3 separate regions of the Homo sapiens genome follow, and regions 2 and 3 are each linked to region 1. The links come from fine-mapping of genetic effects on gene expression. A gene starts in region 1. Each other region holds a variant in brackets. All regions are shown on one strand. Distances are between the middles of the regions. Region 1 holds the start of FAT1 (FAT atypical cadherin 1). Region 2 holds the start of LOC105377599 (a long non-coding RNA gene). Region 3 overlaps FAT1 (FAT atypical cadherin 1).

Evidence for each region. PIP is the estimated chance that this variant, and not a neighbour inherited with it, causes the effect. A credible set is the group of variants that fine-mapping cannot tell apart.
Region 2: its variant is the best candidate, but not a certain one, in a credible set for the expression of FAT1 in fibroblasts (GTEx, PIP 0.73).
Region 3: its variant is the best candidate, but not a certain one, in a credible set for the expression of FAT1 in tibial nerve (GTEx, PIP 0.61).

What each region holds. Positions count from the first base shown.
Region 1 is chr4:186,718,669-186,729,366 of GRCh38, forward strand. FAT1 (FAT atypical cadherin 1) reads right to left here and starts at 5,188. Exons shown (of 27, transcript NM_005245.4): 1 at 4,996-5,188. RefSeq lists enhancers at 4,629-5,130, 5,631-6,630, 7,813-8,314.
Region 2 is chr4:186,888,775-186,896,623 of GRCh38, forward strand. The region is part of intron 1 of LOC102723906 (a long non-coding RNA gene); the gene reads left to right. LOC105377599 (a long non-coding RNA gene) reads left to right here and starts at 493. Exons shown (of 3, transcript XR_939596.2): 1 at 493-2,594; 2 at 3,497-3,687; 3 at 4,006-4,209. The variant T/C (reference allele first, on the strand shown) is at 2,705.
Region 3 is chr4:186,687,375-186,698,072 of GRCh38, forward strand. The region is part of intron 2 of FAT1 (FAT atypical cadherin 1); the gene reads right to left. Among named protein-coding and RNA genes, the nearest start is that of FAT1, 31 kb to the right of the region's middle. RefSeq lists enhancers at 457-1,077, 2,309-2,808. The variant A/G (reference allele first, on the strand shown) is at 5,471.

The DNA of each region.
Region 1 (10,698 bases):
AAAAATAAAATAAAATAAAATAAAATAAACTTCATTCAAACCTTTGCTTCTTTCAAACAAACACTCTTATTCTTCTCTTTTTTTATACTGGCAAAGATCGCAAGAAAAGGAGTTTCACAGCACCGCCCTGGCTTCCTTAGAACTCCCTCTCCGCCAAACGCTGCTCCACAGAGATCCTGCAGGTCCACCCTGGCAGAACAGCCGTTCCCGCATCACAAGCTAATGTCAAACCAATGACCTTTTCTCAGTGCTCATCCTCCTTGATTTCATGACACCTTTGACACCACTCACTCCCCTCCCCAACACTCCTGATCCTTCATTCGGTCACAGAGTCCCCCAAAACAAAGAGGCAATCCACAGGTATGAAAAATGAATGACAACATTCTCCTGATTCTCTTCCATACTCTTTTATACTCTACACTGACTCACCTACAACTCTGGCATTACAAACTTGTCTTCCAACTCTTCCTCCACATGCATTTATTACCACCCTTAAAGATCTCATCTACTCTGCCTCAAATCATGAAGGATCAGTGCACCAAATCTGCAATTTCAGCTCTAACCTCTCTCAAACACCTCGTAACATTCCTCCTAAAATACCATCAAACCTAAGTTATACGATTGGCCTTCACTATATAAGAGTTCTGCATCCATGGATCCAACCAACCTCAGGTTGAGAACGTCTTTAAAATAAACAATAAAACAGTAAAAATATAAATAGTACCCCATTTTATATCAGGGACTTGAGCATTCTCAGATTTGGGTATAAAATCCCAAACCTCCCTTAGAGACCAAGGGACAACTATATAGACTTTTCACCCTTTCGCCATTGCAAAATAACAGCTCTTCCAGTTATTTTCCAATCTCACCACTTCCCAAATCAACCAAGTTTGCAAACTAACAAATCAAACAAAAAGGAAGGGGTTGGGAGAACATCAAATGTGGAACCTAGCTCCAGCTTTGTCACTAATCAACTGTGTGAATTCAAGGAACTTGCTTAATCCTTTCGACTCTATGTATTCGAGAAATTGAAGGATGGACTAAAATCTTTACAGCCTCCTGGCTCTCAAACCTTCATTTCTCAAAAGTTATCCAAACTTGACATTTCTTTCTCAATTTCTCAAAATGGTTCCCTTTGCATTTCTGCTGCTACCACCTAGTTAGAATGGGTATTTTGTTCATGCAGAGTATTCCTACAGTCTTTTGGTATTCCTGCTTTCTGCCCCCAATCCCAGTCAACCTATTCAAACTTCTTTGTGATATTATTCTTTAGCTTGAAAATATTCAGTATTTCCCCTTAGCCTGCTAAGTATATGATTCTTAACCTTGCATTAAAGACCTTTGATAATCTAACCTCTAACTAATTTCCTAATTTCCCAACACTACTTCTTATTTCAAAACAAAAAGGCATACTTCCCAGACTTGCAACAAGTTCAGTAACCAAGCTGTCTTGAGCCAATAACACCACCTAGTGGTGAAGGCTCTAAAGTAATGTAACATCTTGACCTCTTCCCTTCCGAAAGATAATGCAAACATTACTATTTTCTTTGTTTCCTGCCCTCCACTCCTCACATACAGCTTATTTGTTTTCACCTTTCTCTTCAACGTTTCTTTCTTTTTCTCTCTCCTTAACCTCTGCCTCATAAAAACAATCCTCCCTTTTTTAATAAGATTATTTAAGTCATAGTCAAGATTCTCTATGTTCTACCTAGACAAAAAAAAGAAGCCAATCCTTTTCCTAAGATAACATGGTACGGTGAGGTCTTCAGAATTTCTCTCCACTCATCACACCACAAGCCACACTATGCTTTCTATAACTTGCTTTGCACACATCATTTCCTCTGCTTGAATTGTTCCCCTCTGATTCACACTTCCCTCAGAACTCACATTATCCTAAATCCACCTGCCCCAGATCCCCCAGCTCACTGAGGTGCTGCTATGGACCACCTTGACCTGAATGGATCTCTTATCACACTGGTCTATAAGAGACTGTGTACTTGTCCTCTCCCTTATCAGACTACGAGCTGCTTGAGGGCAGGAAACACGATTTGTTCAGCACTAGATGTTGTGTCTGGCCCAATGTTTGACACAGAGGAGGTCCACTATTGTTGGATTGGTAAATGGACAGATGAATAAAGCGTTAAGAGTGAGAAATGTGAGGCAGGACTGTGTTGGGGAGGGGATATAGAGAGGGATAACATAGGAAAATAAAACATCCATCCTTCTCAAATTAACAGAAAATCCAGGCACAACCACGAGGCTGGTAACAACACTGCAGGTGGCTGCTCTGTAGAGGACTCATTTCCAATAGCTCAGAAAGAGGTCACCACCCACCTTACGCTGCCTCAAAATTGGCTATAGATAATGCCAGATCAGTGTCTGTGTTGCAGATTATCACAAAGCTCTAACCTTAATATTCTATGAAGGATACAGATTAAATCATGACTAATATTTCCTAAGCAGTGTATAGAAGCCTTTATTATTTTTACTTTATAGACTTATCTTCACATACATAATGAACCCTTGGAATTAAGCAAGAATTCAGGCAATGTATTTAAATCTGGGACTTACAGTAAAAGATGACTTAAAAAACTTAAAAGAGTGAAATATGCAGATTCCTCATCAGAATATATTTTTGAAATGAAAAGTTCCCCTCAGGTATGAGAAAATGGCAACTTCCTGATCTTAACTGATGTATATCACTCATTTCAAAAACTCTTCTCCAGTGTCTAAGGATAAATAAGCACTTGCAAACTGAACAATTAAGTGAGACCAAAAGATAGAGTTTGGCTTCAACTTCTACATAATTTGGTCAAAAGAACAATTATCTAGCGCAAATCCCACTCATAAAGATTAAACAGCACATCCAGCCTTACGGCTCCCTGCTATTAAATCAGGTCCTTTAGGCTACAAATTATGCCACTGAGACAGAATCTAATGCAATAATAATGTACTAATTTGATTTGGCTGATTGATTCTACGTAAAATCAGCCAAACTTGGGTGGAAAGCAAGCGGGTAAAGTGTTAAAACATAATCTCTAAGATCCTATCCACCTCTAACATTCAAAGAAACGACTGCTTCAAAGGGACCTCAAAGCAAAGTCTAAAGGCAATGGAAAGGTAGAGGATGATCAGGGGAATGAAAACAGAATTAGTTTGTGCATAATTTTTAAAGATTTTTCTTCTCTTCTTTTTCTTTTCTTTTTTTTCCCCAGGCTGAATTGCAATGGCACGATCTCGGCTTACCACAACCTCCGCCTCCCGGGTTGAAGCGATTCTCCTGCCTCAGCCTCCCAAGTAGCTGGGATTACAGGCATGCACCACCACACTCCGCTAATTTTGTATTTTTAGTAGAGACGGGGTTTCTCCATGTTGGTCAGGTTGGTCTCGGACCCCCGACCTCCGGTGATCCGCCCGCCTCGACCTCCCATAGGGCTGGGTTTACAGGCGTGAGGCACTACGCCCGGCCATAATTTTTAAACATTTTTCTGTTGGCACCTGTCCGGACCATGGATTTAAATGATCTACTAACATGATGAGAACCCAACGGGGATACTTCAAAAGAGACAAATGAATATACAGGTGGCCCGAAATGATTTTATAAAGTCCTCTAACAACCACACTTCTTTCCAGAGTGCCAAAGAATTTGGCTCATTTAAGGTGTTCATTTTTCAAAAAATGGTTATACAAATGCAAACTTCATTCAAATCAAACCTTACCTTGAGCTTGTTAAATGCCATGTTTAGCATCACTCAAGGCTTATACCAATTGTTGTTTTAAAAAATTACATAGTGCTTTAAGTATTTTTACATCTTAAATACAAAGGAATAATTCTAACTGTGGAATCAGAGCTGTCTTCCTAAGACAAAAAGACAAAGACAAATATCACAATTAACTATTAACTGGAGAAACACCTTTTCAAACGTCCCTGTAACAACTGGATGTGTTGGACAGCATAACCAAACTCATTAAGAATAGTGTGAAAAACATCACCATTACCTAGTTCTCACACACAGATACCTTCTTAAACTATCGAAACCTGTATCTGAATATACGAAGCATTAAGAATCTGCTTTTGAAAAGGAAATGAATATCTGAAGGTCATTTTCTTTTCAATCTTTTCTCATACTAATAATCACTGTTAATATCCACTTTTAAAAAATCGCCTCTATCAGGCACCCGGGAATTGCTTAACAAAAGCCACTTAATGAAACCACAGTTCAGACAAAAAAAAAAACTTAACTGCATAGAAAATATTTATGAGTTTACTTTCCTAACTCATACAATTGCGTCCTTGTTTCCAAAGCCTTGCAATTCACATCAGCGGGAACAAAAAAATCTAACACACAGCAGAAAGCTGGCTCTCTAAAAGAAAGCATTTTTTTTTAAAGGCAATGAAGGACCAAAAACTCTTTCTTTTAAAAAGATCTTAGAAGTTCCTCCTCCAGAGAAGACAGAAAACACTGACAAACCGCACATTGTGCAGATGTTCAGCCCCGAAATGCAGCCTCGCAGCCCTTCACTCCGCAGTCCACCGGTTGCATCTGCACCTCCGGGCAGCGCTCCTGCAGGGCGCAAACACCCAGAGACCCAGGGACCCGGCAGCCCCGCGCAGGCCTCCCGCGTGCACCGCTCAGCGAGCGGGTCTTTCGCAGACGGCGGGATGCCCCAGGAGACCGCGAGGCCGGCGCAGCCCGGCGAGCTCCCGGAGGGAAGGCGGCGTGTCAGAAAGGATCGGACCCCAGCAATGGCCCCGGATCGGTCCCGCGCGGTCGCCTCCTTTTCCCGCTCCGCCGCCGGGACCCCCCTAGCCAGTGCTGAATTTCCCAACTGGGAAGGACCGAGTCACTCCACCCTCCGGGAAGTCGCGCGCTCATCCGTTTTCGGCAGCGCCGGAGCCCGAGCCGGGGACCGGGCGGACACCCACAGAGTCCGCACCGCAGCGCGCTGCACGCTCTCGCCCCCGCCCGCCGGCCCGCGCCCCAGCGAACTAACCGCAAAGTTGGCCCGAAGTGGCGACGGCGCTCTCGTGGAGCTCACCCGCCGTCTCAGCGCGCCCCCGAGCAGGGACCGGGCCTGCCGGGGCCCTCGCCGGGCTCGCGCGTCCGCATGGTACCTGCCGCACGAGCCGCTCCCGCGCCCTCTCCCCGCGCCCGGCCGCCCAGCTCGGCGCCGGCGCCTCACGCTCCCCGAGCGCAGGAGATCCCTCCGCCCCGGCCCCGCCCGCCGGCGCCGGCGCTCATTTCTCGGGCGCGGAAACTCGAGCCCACTTTCCCCGGCTGCCGGCTCTGGGACCGCGGGCTCGGCCACGCAGTCCCGCCCGGACCCAAAGAGCCCCAGTCCCTGCGAACACCAGGTCCGTGCTGGGAGACGAGAAGGCGCCCAGCGGGGTCTAGCGCGGCTCCGAGGGGCAGGGCGAGGCTTGTGATGCCGAGGTTAGTTACGGCCAGCCACAGGCGCTGTGCAAGGAATTGGGGAAAGCTCCCTGCCAAGAAAGGGAAACGTTAGCTTAGCTAAAAAAAAAAAAAAAAAAAAAAGGCTGGGGCCTAATGAGAAAGCTTCCCAGAGGCATCCCTTTAGCTTTTCCATAGCCTTCTGGGAGCCCCTGAATCTGCATTTGAATGGCGCGGCTCTGGGTCCGCGAAGGTTTGGTGGGCTGAAGTCGTCCTTCAGGTCTCCAAAGGAATGCAGCTAGGTCGGAATCTACTTCCTCCTTCAATCCCCAGAAAATGGAAACGCTTCCCCCGCGACCTTTTTCTGCCGAGTTAGACCCCAGGCCCTCCCCGCCGCGGGCGCCTGGCCTCCCCCGCTGACACCCCGGACGCCCAGGCCTGTGGGACAAAAGGCAGTCGCGGCGTCCCGCGGGCTTCCTAGCCCGGGAGTCGGCCCCAGGGGCCCCAAAGCGTGACCCCAGGCCGACAACTGCAAGTTCCTAGGCAGAGGGGAAGCCCCAGCGCCGAGAAGCCCGCTCCGAGAACTCCCCGCGCCGGGCGCCCAGCCTGAGCGTCCCGGGCGCGGAGCCCATCCCCGGTGCGGGCAGGGCTCCAGCCGCAGGCTCGGCGCAGGGCGGACTCGGCCGAAGCCCGGAGGGCCGGAGGCGCTGGGACGCAGCCCGGACAAGAGGGCGGACTTGATCTCGGAAAGTTTGTGGGACTCAGGCATTTTAACACTGGGAAGACAAAGAGATCCGATTTCCCTGGGACTGGTGAGGGGAGCTTGGCGGGGAGGGGAACGGCAGGGCAGTCAAGTGTGAAAGAGAATTTCCTGGGTTCAAAGTTAACGCAGTCACCTTATAAGCCATCTTAGAGGTGACCGGAAAAAATAATAATAATAAAGGTGTCTAGCAGGTTGTGGCTGGGAAGGAAAAATAATGCCTGCAAGATGAGTGTGCCGATTCGTAGCCCTATATTCCCTGCCCACCAGTTGGAATACACATAGATTCACACATCCAGCAAATGCAAACTCCATCATCCAAAGACGTGTTTGTCCCGGCCATAATTGCTCCAAGTGCTTACAGGTCAATTTCATACATGGAACACCTCGAAAGTGGGTGACCTGATCTCCAAGCCCAACCGGCTTGTGCCGCTTGCCGAATTGTAAATCTCAGCAAAACCCAAACACACCGGAACTCCAGCCGTTTCCTGGGAGCGAGGAAGCGGGAGTAATGCTAAAAGGGGAAAAGAAGAACAGTAAAAAAAGTACAAAGATACCATTCCCTGACGTAAAATCACGGGATTTTTTTTAAATGGCACAAGAGAATTCCTGGAGAAGATTACCATTAATTAATAAGTAATAACGCTTCCTAGGGCTTACTAGATGTTTTACATCTGTCTGGGAATCCCGATTTTCCAGGCTCCCTGAGAAATCTATCTGCCTGGAAGAAGTTGCACTTCGTCGCCACAGGAGCCGCCGAGAGCCAGGGATGGAGATTTCAGACTTAGGACTCTGCCACGATTCTACTGATCCTTAAGCGCCAACAGAACGAAATGGACATGCCTATTAGCTACCACAAATCGAATTATTTTATATGAGAGAGAGAAATGTGGTTCAAGTTCCACATTTGTCCTTTAAATAATCGACCCTCCCTAACCCTGTCCCCAAAGGCTCGTGGAAATTAGGGAGGGGGTTGGGGAGACGGTTCCAGAAACAAAACGCTTTCCTCCAGCACGGCCTCTACATCCAGTCCACCCAAGCTGATTTTTGTAACTCATATAAAGAATGGGCCCGGGTGGGTGGTCAGTGAAGACTGGGGTGAGCAAGCGCCCACGTCGCCGAGCGCCGGGGAGGTCCAGGTTCGCCTCCGCACAGAACCCTGCAAGGAGCGCGCCTCGCCAGGTGCCCGGACTAGAGGGCGCTGCGCCCCTGCAAATCTCGCGGCCCCGATGCGCCCTCCCTAGGCACCATTGCTATAATAAGTTACATTCAAAATAATGCACAAACAGCATCGCCTCTCAAGTTCTTTTTAACAGTGCTCTATATGTATTTTATGAACTCCCAAAGCTATGCATACGAATCTTTCATCGCCGATCCGCACAAAGCCAGAGGGATGCGCAGCTCCTGGAGCCGAGAACCCGTAGGGCGCACACGCTTCCCCGCACTCGCTTAGAGCCACACACCCCACGTAATTTCATTAACGTTTAAACTTAAATGCCAAAAGGCATGCACGATTTGAACAAAGAACTCACCAGTCTAGCCGAGTCCTCGGCCCTGGGCTCTAAAGTCCTCGGCAGCTCCGTGATCCCCTCGCGGTGTAGATATGTGTTAAGAGCCGGGTTTGAAGTACCAACTTTGCCTCCCCGGGATCTTCAGCATGTCCCTAACCAGAGTGCCAACGTCCGTGCCGCCGGGACCCAGGCGGCCGCATCTCCGGAGGCTTCCGACCAGGGCAAACTTAAGCACCAAACGCAGGCGAAAAGAGAGTGCGCGGGGCCGGAACGAGGGCCCGGGAGCAGCCAAGTTTGTCAGGACGTGCCCAGGCAGCCAGCCGCCGAGTTGAGGAGTTGCGGCCGCCGGCTGCGGCGACTCGCTGCCTCTTTCCCCACTCCCTCCCCCTTGGAGGCGGTGGGGGAGGGGAGGTGACGTCAGCGCCCCGCCTCGCCCCCCGCCCCGGGCGCGGACGGGATTCTCCGGCTGGGCGCGCCACCCCGACAGTGGCAGCAGCGGCCGTGGAGGCTGCGGGGGTCCCGGCCTCTGCGGTCTCTCTGGCCGGCCGCAGCTGTGGCGCGGGTGAAACGCCCGCCCTCCTCCTTCGGCTGCGTCTCCCGGGCGCCGGCGAGCGCGGGCGTTCCTCGCACTCAGCGCCTGGAGCCGCCTGGAGCCCCGCTGCGCGCACTTCCCCGGCTCGCGGAGCCCCTCCGGCGGCGTTTCCCACGCCGCGGACTGCAGGTGATGCTCTTCCTCTTCTGCAGCCGAAATTCGTCGCGATGTGTCGCCTGCCAGATTTTTGCTGGGCGGAAGCATGAACAGTCTCTGCAGACTGGCCTGGACGACTTGTACTTTGTGGCCCTCCAACTTCTGGATGTGAATTTTTTTTCACGACTTATTATTATGCTCTTCGTGGTCTTTGTGTTGAAAATCACGGAGCTGTATTTTTATTTTCAAATTCTTTCCCAATGCTCCTCTTGTCTTGACCGTACTCTGAAGCTTATAAGGTTCTGAGAGGAGGGGGCGAAGGGATAGGGGAGGAGCCAGTTCCTAATGTGTCTTACAAGTCATCCCTAGTGATAGGGGCTAATACGCAAATCACTGTCTCCTCCTCGAAATAATATCCATTTAGATAAATGCAAACACTGTTGAGGTTTAATTTATAAAGAATGCGTCGTCTTTATGTAAGTGTCCAGCCTCCAGGAAAATATCTGCTGTGGAATATATTTTTAATGCCACTAAAGTACCAAAATACCTCCCCGAACAGCGTGAAATTCCGAGGGAGCCATTTCTGTGAGTTGACATTGTCCCCAGAAGATTGTCATTAACATTCAAGATCCTTGCAAAAGGGGGCTGGGGGCGGTTCTATCATATTTGCATCCGTTGGTATAAATATGTTGATCAGTTTAGCTGGTCGTTCTTTTACAAAGGTCAAGAGCAAAATTCTGAGCACAGAGGAAACTGGGCAGGGAGCTAAACAGTAAGGAGAGAACAAGATTAGGTGATTGGAATGTTGTGTGTGTTTAGCCTTGAAGTCATAACTTGTCTAAATGTCAGTGTCCTCATCTGTGATATGGGACTAATATCTGCTTCATGTGGTAAAAATGTATTCATGTGTTTATCCATTCAAAAAAAAAACATACTGCACTCTACTTGCCAGGGAGATAACAGTTATTCATGCAGGCAAAGCATTTTTACTGAGCATCATATGAAGTGTCTAGCACGCACATAGTAGGTACTTAAACAATATTAGTTTTCCTGCCCTCCCCCGCTCCCTTCCCTCACTTCTTGGCAGTGTCTCAGTTTTTAATCCATAAAATCAGCATCATCACCACTGATTGGAGATTCTGCCAGGCAGGTCTCCAGACTCAAGTCAGGTCTCCTGGGCTCAAGAGATCCTCCTGCCCAAGCCTCTCCCTCAAGGTACATTTTGATTTGGAAGGGAGGAGAGGATCCAGGGAGCTAGGACACGGAGGGATATAGGAAGGGATTTTAGAGCTCCTGCAGACCCCGAGGGCAGCTAGAGGGTGCCAGATTCCTAAGGAGGGAGGAGGCTGGCTTGAGAGGCCAGTCTGTCAGTGCCCAGCGGACTTCTCCTGCTTCCCTGTTTCAACTACACAGGCTCTCTCCTTTTGTGTCAATAGTTGAAATTAGAAATTGACCACATATTGCAAGTCCTCAAAATGATTCACAATAAATTCACCCCGAGAGGCTTCTCGCTGAAGTCCATTTGGTTTGCTATACTCACTTTAAAGTTGTAATAAATAAACCAAATTACTTAAAAAAGATAAAAATCACAAATGACAGGAACTTATGAATAACAATTGATGATATTAGTCAAAATAGCTGGTTTTCAAAGTGAGATGGGCAGAAAACTTTTAACAGAACCTCTAGAGCTGTGCTAATGTAGTGGGCAGCCACTTGCCCCCTGTGGCTACTTCCAGTTAAACTAAATTAAAAGGCACTTCCTGAGTCTCACCAGCTGCATTCCGAGTTTCAGTGACCATGTGTGGCTAGTGACAATTGTATTGATCGCAGCAGATCAAAGAACATTTTCGTCATGACAGAGTTCCACTGGACACCTTGGTCTAGACCTTTAAAAACACTGCTATTTTATGGAAGGCTACATCAAGCATTAAAATTTCAGTGTGTCCAATACTGAGTCACCTCTGAAGTATAAGGGAGGACCCAGAATCATGGAAGGATTCATTCATTCAGCAAATATTTATCAAGTACCAACAATATGCTGGGTGAAAATATGTAAGACCCAAGATTTAATGAGGTAGGTGTGTTTAGTGATTAAGAAATATTAACATGGCCTTTTAGTTGTTTTCCGTCTTTGCTGACTCATAAAACCAGGGGAAATCATAGATTTAAAGCAGGAAACAATTCTGAGACATTTTTTGGAATAGCCCTAGGACCAAATACTTCTAAGTAGGCTTGACTGACTCCTGGCATCCCACCCTCTCTGCTGCTTTCACTGCTTTCTCATCTGCCTGTGTGCCCATTGCGGCCTCCCCTTCCTGGAGGTGAGAGGAAATATCAGCCCTCTCC
Region 2 (7,849 bases), 170 kb after region 1:
TGTCTTATACTTTAAGCTACTTTTCTCACCTTTTTGCTCTAAACAACGCTGGCAAATGAACTTCCAGCTTTAGATGTGGCGAAGATGGGCTTTTTGGTCAGACACAGCAGACTCCAAGAAAGTGGACTGGGGGCCTGTAACCCCAGCTACTCCGGAGGCTGAGGCAGGAGAATGGTGTGAACCCGGGAGGCGGAGGTTGCAGTGAGCCGAGATCGCACCACCGGACTCCAGCCTGGGCGACAGAGACACCCCATCTCAAAAAAATACAAAAAATAAAGTGGCCCCGGGGCCCACGGTGCTGGGAATTGATGTGGTGGGAGAGTAAGACTCAGGCTGCCTCTCCGCGTTCTGGGGGACGCTGGAAGCGGAGGCTGTCCCTCGCCTTCCTGCCACTCCTCCCGCCTTCCTGCCACTCCTCCCGCCTTCCTGCCACTCCTCCCGCCTTCCTGCCACTCCTCCCGCCTTCCTGCCCTCCGCTGCCTGTGGCTCCTCACTTCCCCGGCCGTGCCGTCAGGGGCGCTCCAGAGCAGCCCCGGTGCCCACGTCTCATCGCAGCCCTCTGGCAGGACAGCGCGCGTCTAAACTAAGCCGAGGCGCACTTCGCTAAGGGGACCTCTCCGTTTGGACAATCCCGACGCCCGGCTCTACGTGAGGCGTTTTTCCCTCGTTCTCATTCATGGGCGGCGCTGGGCATTCTCTGCCATCCTTAGGGGTCCTCCACAGCATGCGGGAGGCCGGCGCCCCAGGGCTCTTTCACCCCCCGCTGCTCTCGTTCCTCCACGTGTTCTCCCGAGCGACCCACCCGCGTTCATGGTCCCAAACCCCCACCTAACCTCCAGCCAGCGCCCTTCTCCCGAGCTCCAGGCCCCTCCAGCTCCAGTGTGGGCATCGTCCCCTGGTTCTCCTCAAGTCCACTTACACTCAGCCTCTTCCAGGCGGAATTCCTCATCTCCCACACAACCCTTTGCCGCTCTGGTATCAGCTGGTGGCTTCTCCGTGGCCATGCAGAGAATAGAGACAGAACTTGAAACTGATGTGCACATGAGTGAGATTCTTCAGCAAGGTGACAGACAGGAGGGTAAAGAGGAAGTAGGATGAGCTCTTTGCTTTGAGTTTCTGTTTTCCAGGTCGGCTTGATTGGAAAGAGGGATGGCCGTGGTGAGAGTTGACAGTGTGCTGGTAGCCCTCGCAGCCCACGCTCGCTCTCGGCGCCTCCTCTGCCTGGGCTCCCACTTTGACGGCACTTGAGGAGCCCTCCAGCCCGCCGCCGCACTGTGGGAGCCCCTTGCTGGGCTGGCCGAGACCGGAGCCAGCTCCCTCAGCTTGCAGGGAGGTGTGGAGGGAGAGGCATGGGCGGGAACCAGGGCTTCGCGGGTGCCTGCGGGCCAGCACGAGTTCCGGGTGGGCGTGGGCTCAGCGGGCCTCACACTGGGAGCCGCAGGCCGGCTCGCAAGTCCCGGGCAGTGAGGAGCTTACTACCCGGGCCAGCAGCTGCGGAGGGTGTGCCGGGTCCCCCAGCAGTGCCGGCCCACCGGCTCTGTGCTGGATTTCTTGCCGTGCCTTAGCTGCCTCCCCTCGGGCAGGGCTGGGGACCTGCAGCCTGCCATGCCTGAGTCTCCCTCCGCACTGCCAGATGCTCCTGCCGGGCCTGAGTCTCCCCGACGAGCGCTGCCCCATGTTCCACGGCGCCCGATCCCATCCACTGCCCAAGGTCTGAGGAGTGCCAGCGCACGGCGACGGAGTGGCAGGCAGCTCCACCTGCGGCCCCGGTGTGAGATCCACTGGATGAAGCCAGCTGGACTCCTGAGTCTGGTGGGGACTTGGAGAATCTTTATGTCTAGCTGGGGGATTGTGAATGCACCAATCAGCACTCTGTATCTAGCTCAAGGTTTGTAAACACACCAATCAGCACCCTGTGTCTAGCTCAGGGTTTGTGAATGCACCAATCGACACTCTGTTTCTAGCTAATTTAGTGGGGCCGTGGAGAACTTTTGTGTCGAACTCAGGGATTGTAAACGCACCAATCAGCACTCTGTCAAAATGGACCAATCAGCTCTCTGTAAAACAGACCAATCGGCTCTCTGTAAAATGGACCAATCAGCAGGATGTGGGTGGGGCCAGATAAGAGAATAAAAGCAGGCTGCTCCGCGCTAGCACTAGCAAGTTGCTAGAGTGGCCTGCCACAGTGTAAGTTTTGTTCTTTAGCTCTTTGCAATAAATCTTGCTACTGCCCACTCTTTGGGTTTACACTGCATTTATGAGCTGTAACACTCATGGTGAAGATTTACAGGTTCAGTCCTGAAGCCAGCGAGACAAAGAACCCACTGGGAAGAACAAACAACTCCAGACGCCCCAACTTAAGAGCTGTTAACACCCGAAGATCTGCAGCTTCACTTTTGAGCCAGCGAGACCACGAACCCACCAGAAGGAAGAAACTCTGAACAGGCTGGAACGTCAGAAGGAACAAACTCAGGACATGCCACCTTTAAGAACTGTAACACTCACTGTGAGGGTCTGCGGCTTCATTCTTGAAGGCTGTGAGACCAAGAACCCACCAATTTCGGACACACTGGGACCACCCTCGCTGACTGGAGGTAATATTGGTTTTTGCTGTTGAAATTAATGACAAAAAGCGTGATTACCTTTGCACCAACCTAAATGTAAGTAGCCGAGGGCCAGTGTGGTGGTGCTGTGATGCCTTCTA[T/C]GTCACAGGCTGTTTTTGTTTTTAATTTCTCCATCCTTATTAGTGCTTTTCCTTAAGGTCACCTCAGGTCCACAGACAAGGCTGCTGAGCCTCCAGCTATCCTGCCCATGTTCTATTTAAGAAAGAAGGGACAGGAGCAAAGATGTTTTCCAGCAATCTCATCCAATGCATTTGCTGACATTTCACTGGCCACCCCATCAGGAAGGAAAGCCAGACATTTTTTTTCTGCACCTAGAAATTTACAGGTTTTATTAGTTAAGAATATGGTTTAGTAGACTTTGGGTAGGAAACTAGCAGTCGCTGATGTGTGAGGGATTCTAAAAATAAGCTTGGACTTTTAAAAACATGTCTGATATGTTTGTGCCCTGTAGATCCATGTCACTTGGCAAAGTTCCTCCAGAGTTATCTAGAATTTTTCCTTTATTTCAATATCTCATCAATTGCTCCCGATCAGTTGCCAAACCTTGCCAGTTTCAAGTCCCAGAATGTAAACTAAATCTGTTTCCTCCTCTTCATTCCTGATACCACTTCCCTAGTTCAGGCCCTGCTGTTCCTCGCTAGGTCGCTGGCACCACCTCTTGACTGTGTCCTTTGAGTAGGGAGAGTAAAGCATGAACGGTGCCAGCTCTACAGCTGGAGCTTGGCTTTTCTTGGGGGGGGGGGGTAAATAAATTAAACAGAAAATGCTGGTAGTTCCTGTGGTGTATCTGAGCTATCTGTTTAAATAGCTGATTCGTTCATCATTAGGTGTCCAAGGACAGTGACTTGCCTTATTCTGCTCTTATTCTCCAGCACTTGAGGCAATCATTCCCAGATAGTGGAACCTCGAATGGCAGACACTGTGGTTCTCCTGCGGGGCTGAGAACTGTGAGGAGCAGAGCAGACTTCATGGAGCTCCACAAGTCACATACACAGGCGGCTGCTGGCTATTTCCGCTTTCTCATCTGGAATTGGCAGCGGACTAAGTGGGCCCTACTTATTAGGTTGGTGCAAAAGTAATCGCGATTCTTGCCATTAAAAGTAATGGCAAAAGCTGCGATTACTTTTGCACCAATCTTACTATATATATATTATTTTTTCAAATCTCAGTTTTATTCTCATTCCAGCATCCTAATGCTTTCCCTTTGGATTTTTTTTTCTAATCTTGAGAAGTTTGTGTTTTCAGTGTAGTAATAACAATAATAGTGTTCTTAGCACACGCGTTACGCCAAGGGCTTTTAAAAGATACTTTTCATAAACCAACTCACTTAATTCTCACAACAACTTTTGAAGTAGTCCACTTTCTAATCCTCATTTTACAGATAAGGAAACTGAGGCACACAAGGTCAGCTAACCTGCCCGAGGTCTCTAGCTAGTGACTGGAAGAGGTGTTCTCTGGATATTATTTGAATCTCAGTCTCGCTATATTTCTTCGTCATGACTGTAACTTTCCCCCTGTATTTCTAAATATTTTAATCTCTTGATCATATAGCATACGTTGATTTAATAAATCACTTTTACATGCATTATCGTATTTGGTATTCATCACAGCTCTCTGAGGTGGGTAAGGGAGATTTGGTTACTTCTTTCTGACAAATGAGAAAAATGATGCTCATAGACACTGTTAAGTTAGAAGCACAGGGCGTTAATTCTGGAAGTGTTTTAAAGATTACCCAATCCAGCCACTCAACTTTTAGGAAATTGAGCGTCAGAAAAATAAATGCCTTTCTCTAGTTCCCACAGCTGGCTGCAGTACCAATCACCTGCCTCTGAGTTCATTGCCAGCTGGGTGCTGTGGAACTTACCTTGACTTTGGAGTTAATTATCCAACTTCTCTGAGCTATAGTTTACCCTTTATAAAATGAGGGCATGATTATGCTTCATAAGACTGTTGTGAAACATAAATAAAGTTAATATGTGCTGGGCCTAACACAACCCAGATATCCATGAAAAGGGGTCAGGCTTTTTTTGCCCACTCCTCATTTTACCTTTTCTGTAACGCTGTCGTGAGGACATAAAATAAGTTGCTATTCTATAGCATGTATTTTATTCTATACCATGGGGCTAGGAAATAAAAACCCTGCCCATCCCCTGCTCTCTGATGTTTTTTTCTGAACTAGTTTCACGTGCCTCCTTTTACTTGCCATAATCTTTGGCTGCGGAAAACCTCCAGGCCCAATCAATCAGGTTGCTTCTACTCTCTCCAGGCTTTGTTTGCAGCCTGAACTCCAGGGTCCATCACGTCAATCGTACTGTTGCCACTGTTTTTGCACTCCCTTACCCGCTTTGCTCAGCAAAACTCCAGTCCCCCGTCAGTCCAAACACCCGATTTCCCCACCCGTGCACCAGTGCTGCTGCTGCAGGTGACACTGTGAACTTGCTACACGTTCTTGGGCTCACCCCAGCAGGGCCCTCCGTTCTGCAGAGCGATCATTTCCAGTTCTAGTCCTGTTTCCCTCACAGCTCTTTGAGATTTTCGTGTCATTCCTCAAACTCCAGACCTCACCACCTCACCTTATAGCAAGAGTGTTTGGTACCCTGCTGAGAAAAGCAGTCATCCTCATGGAAGATCGCTAACGTCAGCAGGGTGCTTTCTGTGGGGCAGACATTGGGGCAAGTCCACCATTTATGTCATTTCGTCCATCTTCACCAGAGTGCCAGGTAGTAGATATCGTTATGATTGTTCCATTTTAGAGGGGAAGCAGCTTAAGCTCAGAGAGGTTGTGTAACTTCTCCAAGGTGGAACAGCTGGGGGAAGAGAGCCACAAGCAGCTCATGGCTTGCCTCTAGAGCTGACCTATTAAGTATCAAACAACAAATTCCTCTATGTTCTCCCCTGTACACAACAAACTTATCTTCGTTAATTTTTAAAAATTAGGTTTAAAAAATTTTCTGATTTATTCATGCATACAATTTAAAGAGGCAAACAGGTATGAGGAAACAGCAGCCCCTGACCTTCTTATCCTTAACTTCCACTTCCCCAGAAGCAGCCACTTTTAACTGAATTTGTTTGGCACTTACATCCACGCTTGTAAATATCACGCTGATGCTGCCACTCACTGATATGTCCATTTGATCCCCTCTGTGGACTTCCCACGGGGGAGCATGAGGGTTTAGCTCTTCCACACAGCAACACCCCTTTCTCTCAACACAGACAACACATTTTCTGTCTGTCCCATCTTCCTATAAGTTGTACTCATTTATGTAAGATATAAATGCTAATCATGACTACGCACAGGTATGTTATCATTACTTTTCCTCTTCTGAACATTGGTGTGAGGCCTAAAATTAAGGCCCTGTGGTATATGCTGCCCTGACCTTTGGTGAAACCAGGAAGGCATCAAATGGTCTAACCTCAAGTTCCCCTCAAGCCTGCACCTGTGGATAAGGTCCCTTGGCTAAACACCCCTCCTTACTGAGCGGACCAGGCACAGTTCCTGCCTATTCCTGAGTAACAAGTTTCGGTTCCCTACCAGCCTGGAGTTTTATTCAGACAAGCCAATCACACCCTCCCATGGGGACCAGGGGTCACCTCACCCCCGTGGTACTACAAAGCCTGGCTCCCGCCGCCTGGTTGCTCACTCTGCTCCTGAGGGCCTGAGTGGTGGGCATCGCTCTTCTCCCCTGGGCTGTGAGCACTTGCTGTTAATCAACGGCCATCGATCTTACCTGGCCAGTGTCTGGCGTTGTGGGTCCAGCCATTCCTCCCTCAACGAAGAGGTGTATAGAAAGCGAGTAAAACACACGTCACTTTGTGTTTCTAGGGTTGATCCGAATCTGCTCGGTTTTCCAGTGTATACATCCTCTCCCAATCCCTTCAAACTTTAATGTCGAGTTCCTCTTCTTGGTGACTCTGACCTCTGGTCTAGCTTGGTGGGTCACTTACACCCACTCTGTGGCCATCACCTTTTGGAGATTTTGCCTGTCTGAAAATGTTGTTATTCTTACACTTACTTGATAGTTCGGCCAGGTCTGGAGTTACTGGTTGGAAATTATTTTTCTTTAGAATTTAGAAGCCATTTTCATGTCTTTTAGTTTCCAACATTGCTGTTGAGAAGTTCAAAGCCATTCAAATCCTTAATCCTTCATATGTGATCTGTTTTTCCTTTGCTATATGGAAAACATTCCCCTCACCGCCCCCCCCTTTATAAATTTACCAATGAAATGCACTAGTGTGGTTCTATTTTCATTCGTTGAACTTGAATGGGTCTTTCTAATCCAGAAATTCATCCTGGAGCTCTGGGACCATTTTCACGACTGAGTCAGTTGATGGTTTTCTCCACTCCATTTTCTTTTCCTGTTTCTACTTTCTGAAACTCATATGATATAGATATTGGCTTTCTTGAATAGTTCTCTAATTTTATTATCATTTTTCTTTTCTTTCCTTTTTTTTTTTTGTTTGAGATGGTGCCACCCAGGAGTGCAATGGCTGAATCTCGGCTCACTGCAACCTCTGCCTCCCGGGTTCAAGTGATTCTTCTGCCTCAGCCTCCCGAGTAGTTGGAACTACAGGCCCACGCCACCATGCTAATTTTTGGATTTTTAGTAGAGATGGGGTTTCACCATGTTGGCCAGGCTGGTCTTGAAATCCTGACCTCAGGTAATCCGTCCACCTTGGCCTCCCAAAGTGCTGGGATTACAGGCATCAGCCACTGCACCTGGCCTTTTTTTCCTATTTTCTGTTTTTAATCATCAGCTTTCTAGATTTCTTTACCTCATCTTCTAATCTTTCTACTGAATGTTTTATTTCTCCTGTTCTATTTTTAATTTGAAGGTTGGTTTTTGGTGCTCTTTTTGGTAAACTCTAGGCTTGTGGGTGGGGTTTTATTGATGGCGGGCTTCCCTGTGGGATGAGTTGGCTGAGCATTTTCTCGCAGATCCCCTACACTGGTTGGTCTCTTCCTGTAGGTGGGCCAGATGCCCCCAGGAGAGCTTCCAAACTCTTTCCTGAAGGCGGGCGCCACACTGCCAGCTGCCAGCACGCGGGGCTCCAGCAGGAAAGGAGATGTGTACTGATGACTTTGTATCCTTCCACACCGCCAAGTCAGCCACCACTCACTAGCTGGTTTTCAGTTTCTAAAACTGCGTTGCTGATGTTTGCATTCCTTTGGGATTTTTAATACTTTTTATGTATTATATATTGATATAACTATTAATTATGTATTA
Region 3 (10,698 bases), 31 kb before region 1:
AGTTCTCATAAAAACAAACAAACAAAAAAAAAGAACAGCTTTTAAAAATTTCATTACCTTTCACCCAGCAATTTCACTTCCTGTTATTTACGCTAAGGCAACAGAGATACACACAAACAAGGAACTTACATATTCAAAAATTGAGTATTACTATACAAACAGGATGAGTGTCCCAAATCAAAAAATCTGAAATGCTGCAAAATCTGAAACTTTGGAGCACCAACATGGTGCGCTGGGCATTGTGGATTTCAGATTTCTGGATGTGGGATGTCAACTGGTATAATGCGTATATCTCAAAATCCAAATAAATCCAAAACACTTCTAGTCCCAAGTATTTCAGATAAAGATGCTCAACTTCTATTAGTCTGTCTCTGTGCTGGCACTCTATATTCTAAAAATCACATTCTTTAAGAATACCTACCAACCAGAAAATGTTCTGGATATAGCAGAAGGCAGTCAACAAAACTACACGTTCAGTAAATGTTTTCTGTTCATCATTTTTACAAATCCCGCACCTGGCACTGGAAAGGCATCTTTGTGCAGGTACATATGAGTTAGGGGAAAAGTTCACCAGGGTTCTAGGTAGTAAAATTTTAGTCATGTTTTCTCCTTTCCAGTAGTTTACATTTTCCCAGGCTTCTACAATGACTATATACTGCCTTTTTATTGGAAATAAAGATCATTTTTTTAATGAGGGGAGTTCGCTAATTCTGTCCAAATGCTATGGAGACTCAAAGCTGAAAAAAAAAAAAAAAAAAAGCCAACACTATGTAATCATTTCCAAATTCCCTTTTCATGACCTTAAATGGGACTTCTAAAGCTAAGCAGATGCCCCAGCAGGAAATAAATTTGCAACTCAACAGAGGCACCCACAGAGATATGGCAAGATGCACCTTCGGTGGCTTTGGCAATAATTTCCTTTCATTATGTGTGAAGGAATCTTCACTCTCCAGTGCTTCTCAAGTCAAAGAGAAGCCTGTAGAAGTTAATAGGTCCTTAATATGTATCTGCTCCCTGAACTGATTCCTGTTCATAAGGTAATCGCGGACCCCATGTGGTCCTTTCACAGGGGCTTCGGCAAATCCCCTGCAGTGAGATGGCCCCTGGGCAGCTCTGTTTTCTGCAGACCAGGCTGTGACCTAATCAATAGGGTTCCAAGCAAGACAATCCCTACATTCAACAGCTCGGAAGAAATGAAGGGGGACGCAATTCAAGCTTTATTGACGAATTCCATTTACCTGTCACAATGATGGTTCACCCAGCAAGAGTACCCCCCCCGCCCCCCCCCAAAAAAACACACACCCTTCAGCTGCTACAGTAGACTTTCCAGCCAGCAGCCGGCACAAAATAAACATATTTACTTAAGCTTCAGTCACAACTCTTGACGTGAAACTGATGAAGCCCAAATGAAACAGGTGTATCTGTGAGATACAAAGGCAGCAGCCACAATGTGGCAGGGTAGGTTTTCATAACCTGTATTCGTTTAAACCCAAGGACACAAAAAGTACCGCAATAAATATAAAGCAGAAAATCACCCCAGCATGCAGATCCCAAAATTTACATGGAAAATTCCATAAACCTGAAAATGACCTTTTTAACTCTGAAAAGAATAAACAGGCCATTGAAACAACAGAAAGGTCAAGTTTACAGAAAGCAACTACTTTTCAAAAAGAAGTGTGAAAAGCATGGGTTTTGAATTAATTATACATGTTAGCAATTGTGGAAGCCCACAGAAACTTTACAGTTAATGAATAAAGATTTCACTTCACTTGGAAATGATGGACCTGGTCTAAATAAATCTTTTGGAAAATCACTCTGTAAAAATATCACTTTAAGATGTCATATACTTTCACATAAAGAAGATTTGTATCTTGTACGTCAAATCAAATTAGAATTATGCTACAAATCCAAATTATGCCCCCCAAAAAGCTATTTAAATGAGGGAACTTCAATAACAAATGTTTATCCTCAAAAAGACACATGATTTACTCGGAATTTTACAAAAGCTATCACTGGACATTTTTTTTCTTTTTGCATTCACATCCAATGACCCATCATGGACAATTTTTAATTGAAAACAAAGTCTGATTTTAAATTAACTTCTGGGCTGTTTTTCCACACTCATTAACCAAAGCGAGAGAGAGTCCAAGTCAAAAGACTCCAAAATGAGCTCACACACTCGCTTAACATCACAAGAATTGCTTCACTGTAATATTTTTAAAGCCATGCCAGGATCTAGGCCACCAGCCTCTTCAACAAATAAATTTTCAGCAACACCAGTGTAATAGGCTTTTAACATCCTCATTGAATGTCCTTAGCCCAGGGTATCTGGCACCCACCCACACCAGGCTAATTCAACAGGCAGAACTACTTAACTCTTCCACTTCCTTTCCCACAAGGGCATGCACACCCGCCACACGACTCGACTCCGCACACCACCTCACCTGGGCGATCAAGCCTTGCTTTGTTGGTGGTGATCTCTTAATATCCAGAGGAAAATTAACACACCATGTGACTCTTTAAAAAGACTACCGCACTCACAAGCCCATTAGAAGATCTCATACCTACTTTTTCCCATCACCCAAATGAAGGGAAAGAGTAACTTTCCTATCATTTTTTCTCAGGTTTTAGTAGCCCCTTCCTCAGTTACTATTCAATTACATTTTCCCTATCCCTATAGGATAGCTACAAATAAACAAAAAACATGTTACTGCATTGCGTTACAGAAAAGTGTAGTAGAATTCAAAGCTGTATTTCTCTAAAAAGAAACATTTTAAAAAGAAGAGCAAACACTTGAGACTACAGAGATAAATTATACTTGTTAGGCATGAAGCCGTTATCTCAAGTTTACTATTCATTAGAATGCTGGTAATCTTAGGACAGTTGAGGAAGTAAAAACAATCAGAAACAAAACCATTCCCACCAACCCCAAAAGATTCCAGCATAGGTAATTTGCAAAAAAATTATAACCAAAGTGAATGATCAGAGACGTAGCTCTAGGTCACTTATTTCGTGTACGTCATTCACAGAAGAAAATCTAATAGCCTGCACGGTGGCTCACGTCTGTAATCCCAGCACCTGGAGGCCGAGGCAGGCAGATCATCTGAGGTCCAGAGTTGGTGACCAGCCTAACCAACATGGTAAAACTCCGTCTCTAATAAAAATACAAAAATTTAGCTAGGTGTGGTGGCTCACACCTGTAATCCCAGCTACTTGGGAGACTGAGGTAGGAGAATCACTTGAACCCAGGAGTTGCAGTGAGCAGAGATCACGCTACTGCACTCCAGCCTGGGCGACAGAGTGAGACTCTGCCTCAAAAAAAAAAAATCTAGTAGCCCACTATCCAAATTTAAAGTCACAAATATCTTTAAGGCAGTTGAACTCTACATAAGTCTCTAAACTTGCATTTGAAATGGGGCTAGTCGAAACTGAAATTTGCTGTAAGGGTGGAATATACACTGATTTAAAGACTTCATAGGAAAAAATGAATGTTAAAGGTCTCATTAATACTTACGCTAATCACATGCTGTAATTGTACTTTTTGATATGTTGGACTAAATAAAATATATTATTAAAATTTCATCTGTTATATTCTTTTTTATTGTGGCTACTAAAATATATAAAATTACAAATAAAGACAGTACTATTGGGCAGTGCTGCTTTTGACCTGTTATACTAATTCATTTGATTTAAAAAATAACGAGTAACGGTAAAAAGTGGCAGAATTTGCACAATTTTGTTAATATAAATTGTAAAAATCAGTTCACCTTTCACATATGAGCACCTGTATCTAAAAACAGTAAACTTTGGAATATTTCTAATAAGTGGTTTCATGGTCTACTCTGGGACATGAATCACTGTTGTGTTTTGTTTTAGCTTATACAGAGTACACCGTGCTGATTAGGTGCCTCTAGTGCAGATTCATCTCTAACACCAAAAGAAACAATTTAAGACTTTTATTCTCTTCGCTAACATGATCTTCTATATACTATATCCAAGACTTACTGTTTATGAGAATATCACATTTTAAGTCACCATCTCTACATTAGGTTTCTAACAAAGTTTGTCAACTAACTTGTTACAGAATCTTCATTTCATTTCATGAGAAAATTTTTTGTTAGAAACAAGGCCACTGAGCCAGGCGTGACAGGCATGTTGGCTCACATCTGTAATGTCAGCGCTTTGGGAGGCCAAGGTAGTAGGATGGATCACTTGAGCTGAGGAGTTCGAGACCAGCCTGGGCAACATAGCAAGACCCCACCTCTGCAAAAAAAGTAAAAAAAATTAGCCGGGCATGGTGGCATATGCCTGTAGTCCCAGCTACTCAGGAGGCTGTGGTGGGAGGATTGCTTGAGCCCCGGAGTTCAAGGCTGCAGTAAGCCCTGATTGTGCCACTGTACTCCAGTCTGAGAAAGTGAGATCCCATCTCTAAATAAAAACAAAATAAAATATTAAAAAAAACAGAAACAAGACGATTCGTTCTGACATTTAATGATCACTGAACCTTTCTACAAGCAGTAAACAATAAACATGTATGCTTTACTGTGGCTACTATTTTTTTTTACCTATAATAATGATTATTTTTATGTGGTTCTTTTTCTAATCTCTTTGAGGAGAAGAATGGCAGCTGGGACTTACTACTTCTCTAAAAATCTCTGTTAAAGAAGGCCACAAGTTTGTTTTTCTTCCCCCCCATGTATATGTCAATGTGTTCAAAGACATCCACTCCCAAAATTTCCAAACAGAAATAATGTCAAAATGCTTAGTGAGTCAATACAGTTACACGTTTCTATTTCAAATCCTAAGATTTCTATTTCAACTTACCACAGAGCACTTTCCTATTAACTGTTGCACATACGTCCCGTAACAAACAACTCTAATATAAGCTAAAATTAGCAAAATACTAAGTGGTATTAAAATACATCTTAGGTTATTTATTTATTTATTTATTTTTTTGAGACGGAGTCTCGCTCTGTCGCCCAGGCTGGAGTGCAGTGGCGCAATCTCGGTTCACTGCAAGCTCCGCCTCCCGGGTTCACGCCATTCTCCTGCCTCAGCCTCCCGAGTAGCTGGGACTACAGGCGCCCGCCACCACGCCCGGCTAATTTTTTGTATTTTTAGTAGAGACGGGGTTTCACCGTGTTAGCCAGGATGGTCTCGATCTCCTGACCTCGTGATCCGCCCGCCTCGGCCTCCCAAAGTGCTGGGAATCTTAGGTTATTTTTAAAACTTTTCCATTTAAGCTGAAACTTAAGCAGAGATGTCAGAGGGCTGCATGAAACCTAAAGATACCAAATCAACACTCCTATATTCTCTCCTCATTTCGGTGTCTATTTCCACGCCCCCCAGTCTTCCATGGACTTCCAATTCCATTTCCCCAAGTATTCCATTCTCTACGGGACAGCAATAAATCAATGAGATAGTTTGTGACAAATTAATTAGCAGGAAGTGGTGCTAATGAGAAAAACGA[A/G]CATCTGCAGGCCAAAGTCTATCGTGAAGAACCCCTTGCTGCCCTTTACCAGACACTCCATCTCTCCGCCTTTCACTTTAGAAACACGATAACTGGAATTCTCCAATTCCTTTGGGGGTAAGAAACTTCAGAGATCTTTGTGATAGAAAATGAAGTAGGAAGACGATGGAGGAGCATTGCTTTGGTATCTTCAGACTTCAAGCATCCCCCTGGTATCTCTGCTTACGTTCTAGTTTAAATGGAAATGTGCTAAAAATAACTTGAAGATATACTGTAATGCCATTACATGTTTGAACAGTATGACAAACTTAAAGTATCGTTATGTAAGACAGAAAAGTTTTAAGACCATATTGATATTTTCACAATTTTCACAAGCCTTTATATAGTAATGCACATTTAACATTCAGAAGGGATTCCCTCAAAGGGAAACGCAATCGGGTAAAAGTGCCTCTGGAAGTAGGAACATGAACACAGTACTCGGCAGCTCCTCTCAGCAAGGTTAGCCTACCTCCCTACCTGTGGCTGGATGAACGAACTGTGTCACAGCACGTGGGAGATGACAGTGGAGGAGTTCTGAGCCTTGGCCCAGCGGATTTGCTGCTTTCCTCGAGCACCCAGAACCCCGAGACCACCATGTAAACGGGTCCAGGACAGGCTGCGGGATGATCACAGACACAGGGCCTAGGAGCTGCTGCCTGCAGCGAACACCCAGCCACCTCCTGGGAGCAGGGCCCTCGAGCTCAACAGCAACTGATCAAACATGAGTCAGCCCGTGGAAAACAGCCAAGGAAACACCCAGCTGAGCCCAGCCCAAATCGCCCACCCACAGAACGGTGACCCAAATGAGTGGAGGCTGTTCTAAGCTATGAGGTTTTGGGATGGTTTGTTTCCCAACAAAAGGCTAAATGCCATTCTCTGTAATTTCCTTCACAATACTTAATATTGGCCCAAAGACAATAAAACGTTTCAGTTCAGCTCTGGATTTGCCTACACTTATTCCACTTGAGTTTCTCATGTATTTCATCTAACCTAACAGCCATCTCCACATTCCTCACAAGATTCAACCTCTCCCAGACTCAACCTGCCTCTCATCTAACCCAACCACCATCTCCCCACTCTTCACAACACTCAACCTCTCCCAAACTCAACCTGCCTCTCATCTACTAATCCAACCACCATCTTCCTATTTCTCACAAAACTCAACATCTCACAAGCTCGACCTGCCTCTCATCTAACCCATCCACCATCTTCCTATTTCTCACAACACTCAACCTCTCCCAGACTCAACCTGCCTCTCATCTACTAATCCAACCACCATCTTCCTATTTCTAACGAAACTCAACATCTCCCAAACTCAACCTGCCTCTCACCTAACCTAACCACCATCTCCCCATTTCTCATAACGCTCAACCTCTCTCAAATGCAACTTGCTATGAACAGATTTCTACTCAAATACACAGTGAACAACTTCCACAACGGTTTCCTTTCCTTCCTTTAATCATCCTAAAGAGTTACTTTTAAATAGAATAATGAAGTTAACTGAACTAGCTACTGATAATTTTCTATTTATATGAGTGGAAGGTTTAGAATCAGAGTTCCTAAGTAGCAAGAAGAGTTGACAAAGAACAAATGAGTTTTTAAAAAACTTTTACTTAGATGTAGTTACTAAAATAAGAAAACTACTTTTAGTTTACATACATATTATTTTTCTTAAAAGAGTCTGGTAACTAACTAAATTTCCCCCCATTATTCAACCACCCTTTAAAAGAAAGTGTTTGGTTTTAAGTAAATTGCACCTCTCCACAGAAGTAACCAAGACACTTAAAATACAAAACAGGCTGGGTACAGTGGTTCACACCAGTAATCCCAGCATTTCAGGAGGCTGAGGAAGGCAGATCACCTGAGGTCAGGAGTTCATGATCAGCTAGCCAACATGGTGAAACCCCGTCTCTACAAAAAATACAAAAATTAGCCAGGCATGATGGCGGGTGCCTGTAATCCCAGCTACTTGGGAGGCTGAAGCAGAAGAATCGCTTGAACCCAGGAGGCAGAGGTTGCAGGGAGCCAAGATCGTGCCACTGCACTCCAGCCTGGGCAACAGAGCGAGACTCCATCTCAAAACAAAAACAAAACAAAACAAAAATACAAAACAGCTTTTTCAAAGGATAGTTGGGTGAGCTCAATTTAATCCAGAAAACCAACAGTTTCAAAAATAATCTGTGAATCTCTAGAAGTAACTATTTTCTTAAGTTTTAAGAAATTCATCAATAATGATACTAACAAAAATAGATCCTACTAATCTGAACGTTTTTTAGAGTTCAAGTTTTTGCTGAATAATGTGCAATGGCAATGGATACTCATCTTTTATACTTAAAACAAAAGAAATACTTTTCAATCCAGAGGATGATACAGGCAATAGCACTACTCTACAGCCCAAGGACACAACACGTAACTCAGGTATATTCACCTGGAAGGCCAGCCTCAGAATCTAGATACTCAATCTCACAAAGGAGGCTGCTCCTAGGTAAGCAAAGCAGAAACAAAGAGGAACCCGCATTGCTACTAAACTGCTTTGTTGTTCTTATTCTTGTAATTTTGGAAGGTATGGGAGACAGGGTGTCTCAAGTGGAAGAGCAGCCTTAACTATATTAAAAAGGACAAATTTAAAAGGGCTTTCTCAACAATAGTTATTTAGATAAGCGTTTCCCTTTAGTATTTTGTTACAATCTATTTCCATTTTAAATTTTACGCATTCAACCAGTATTGGCTGGATGCCTAGATGCCAGTCAGTTCCTAAGTAAGTGATACAGACACGGACAGAGTCCAGTTTCAGCCTTATATTCTGGTGGAAGTCAAATGACAAAAGCAGATTTTTTAAACATGCTAAAATAATTTTTAATATGTATTATATATAAAACACACACACACACACACACACACACACACACACACACACACATTTTTGAGACGGAGTTTCACTCTTGTCCCCCAGGCTGAAGGGCAGTGGCACAATCTCGACTCACTGCAACCTCCAGCTCCCAGATTCAAGCAATTCTCCTGCCTCAGCCTCTGGAGCAGCTGAGACTACAGGTGTGCGCCACTAGGCCCAGCTAATTTTGTATTTTTAGTAGAGACAGGGTTTCACCATGTTGGCCAGGCTGATCTTGAACTCCTGACCTCAGATGATCCGCCCGCCTTCACCTCCCAAAGTGTTGGGATTACAGGCGGGAGCCACAGCGCCCGGCCATAGGCCCTAGAACACTTATTTTAAAAATTACTGACCTTAAACTCTAATCTTGATACTTTGTAGATATGAAACTTCGTGTGACTTCTTTCTGAAATCAACATTCTGCCAATTAAAACCACATATGGATATTACTCATGTTCATACTTTCCTAATCAGTTTCCATCTTCTAAATGAGCTTGCCACACTATTAAGAAAAAGCACTTCCTTTTAAAATTTTTTAGATCCTTAAAAAATAACTGATTTCCATTTTGTTGCCTCAACCAACAGACTAACTTGGTATTTACATGACAAACCCGCCTTTTTTCACTTAAATATGTAAACACCTTCAGCTGGGCAACAAATCGAAAGAAGAGGATCATGGGACAAACATGCACAGGATCTATGAAAAGATGAACACCCCCTGAGCAGGCAGCTACTCGGTACCAGCCCTGTGCCAAGCACTGTGATAAGAGGAACACGGACGTCTGAGACAGAGTAATGTCAAGCAGCCCTAAGAATAAAGAGGCAAGTAAAAAAATTAATAGAAAGCTAAAAGCAAACCAGGACCCACAAATGCATTTTGGAGAATCTTTTAACTAAGAACTTATGGCAGGGCTATTTTCCATAGAGGTCAAAGAACATACGGCAAGTCCATTTAAATAAAAATTCTGGACTGGGCACAGTGGCTCACGCCTGTAATTCCAACACTTTGGGAAGCCAAGGTGGGCAGATCACTTGAGATCAGGAGTTCGAGACCAGCCTGGCCAACACAGCAAAAACTCGTCTCTAGTAAAAACAGAAAAATTAGCTGGGTGTGGTGGTGCACACCTGTAATCCCAGCTACTTGGGAGGCTGAGGCAGGAGAATCACTTCAACTTGGAGGTGCAGGCTGCAGCAGGCAGAGATTGAGCCACTGCAACTCGACTCTGGCCTTGGCAACAAAGCAAGACTCTGTCTTAGAAAATAATTAATTAATTAATTAATTAATTCTGTCTGCCAAGGGAGCTAACTTTATCATTAGAGGCCTGAGTTTCCTGACAGATTGCCTTAATAAGTAAAGGAATACTAGTGGTGTGGCATTAAGGGTTTTCCATGGTGAGCTGGCAAAACTAAAGACCAAAGCCTGGCCTAGAAAGCTGCTTAACTTAAACGAGGTATCAATGACCCTTGGACAACACGAGTTTGAACTGCACAGGCCCATTTACACATGAACTCTTTTCAACTGAAGGCAAATCAAAAACACAGTACTCACAGCACGCGAAAGCGCAGCGTCTGTGGAGGGCCGGCTGCGGGACCTCAGAACGCACAGATGTGGGTGTGCGCGGACGGTCCAGAAACCGATCCCCATGCTCTCCGAGGGATGATGCACACTGTTCATTATATCTGTTTTATTTGTGCCGTATGCCTCAATGGGGAGACAGAACATCTGATGAAACAGGTGTATAAAGAACTACAGGTTCTTATTTCACTTGGAAACAGCCTTGAATGACGGTTTCTCCTAAATCATTTCAGGCACATGTACAAATATATAGAAAAGTGACCTGTCCATTGTTAAGGTTTATCTAGCTCATTTATAATTTTTATACAGGTTTTATTTCTCTATTACATTAAGCACCATATAATGTATGTAGAAATACTTGCAGGTTGTAAGGCATTATAAAAATGCTTGTCACTGTCACTGTCATCACTGCCATCATCATCATCACCATTATCCTTACCCGCTGGTCCTCCTTTATGAGAATTTGTGAGGACTGACAACCCTGGAACCTCCAGAACAGAGGATCTCAAAACCAGGATTCCAAGAAGACGGTCAGTGCATGAACACAGGTTCGGCACTTCACTGAGCCCCTTGGTATTGAATCAAATCACTGTCTCTCTGAAGAAAGAATATACAGCTTTCCACAGATTCTCAAAGTTTCTGTGACGCCAAAACCATCAAGAACCACAGTTTTGGAGCCTACAAATAGGCGTCCAGGGTGGCAGAAAAGAAGCTTCGCTCAAC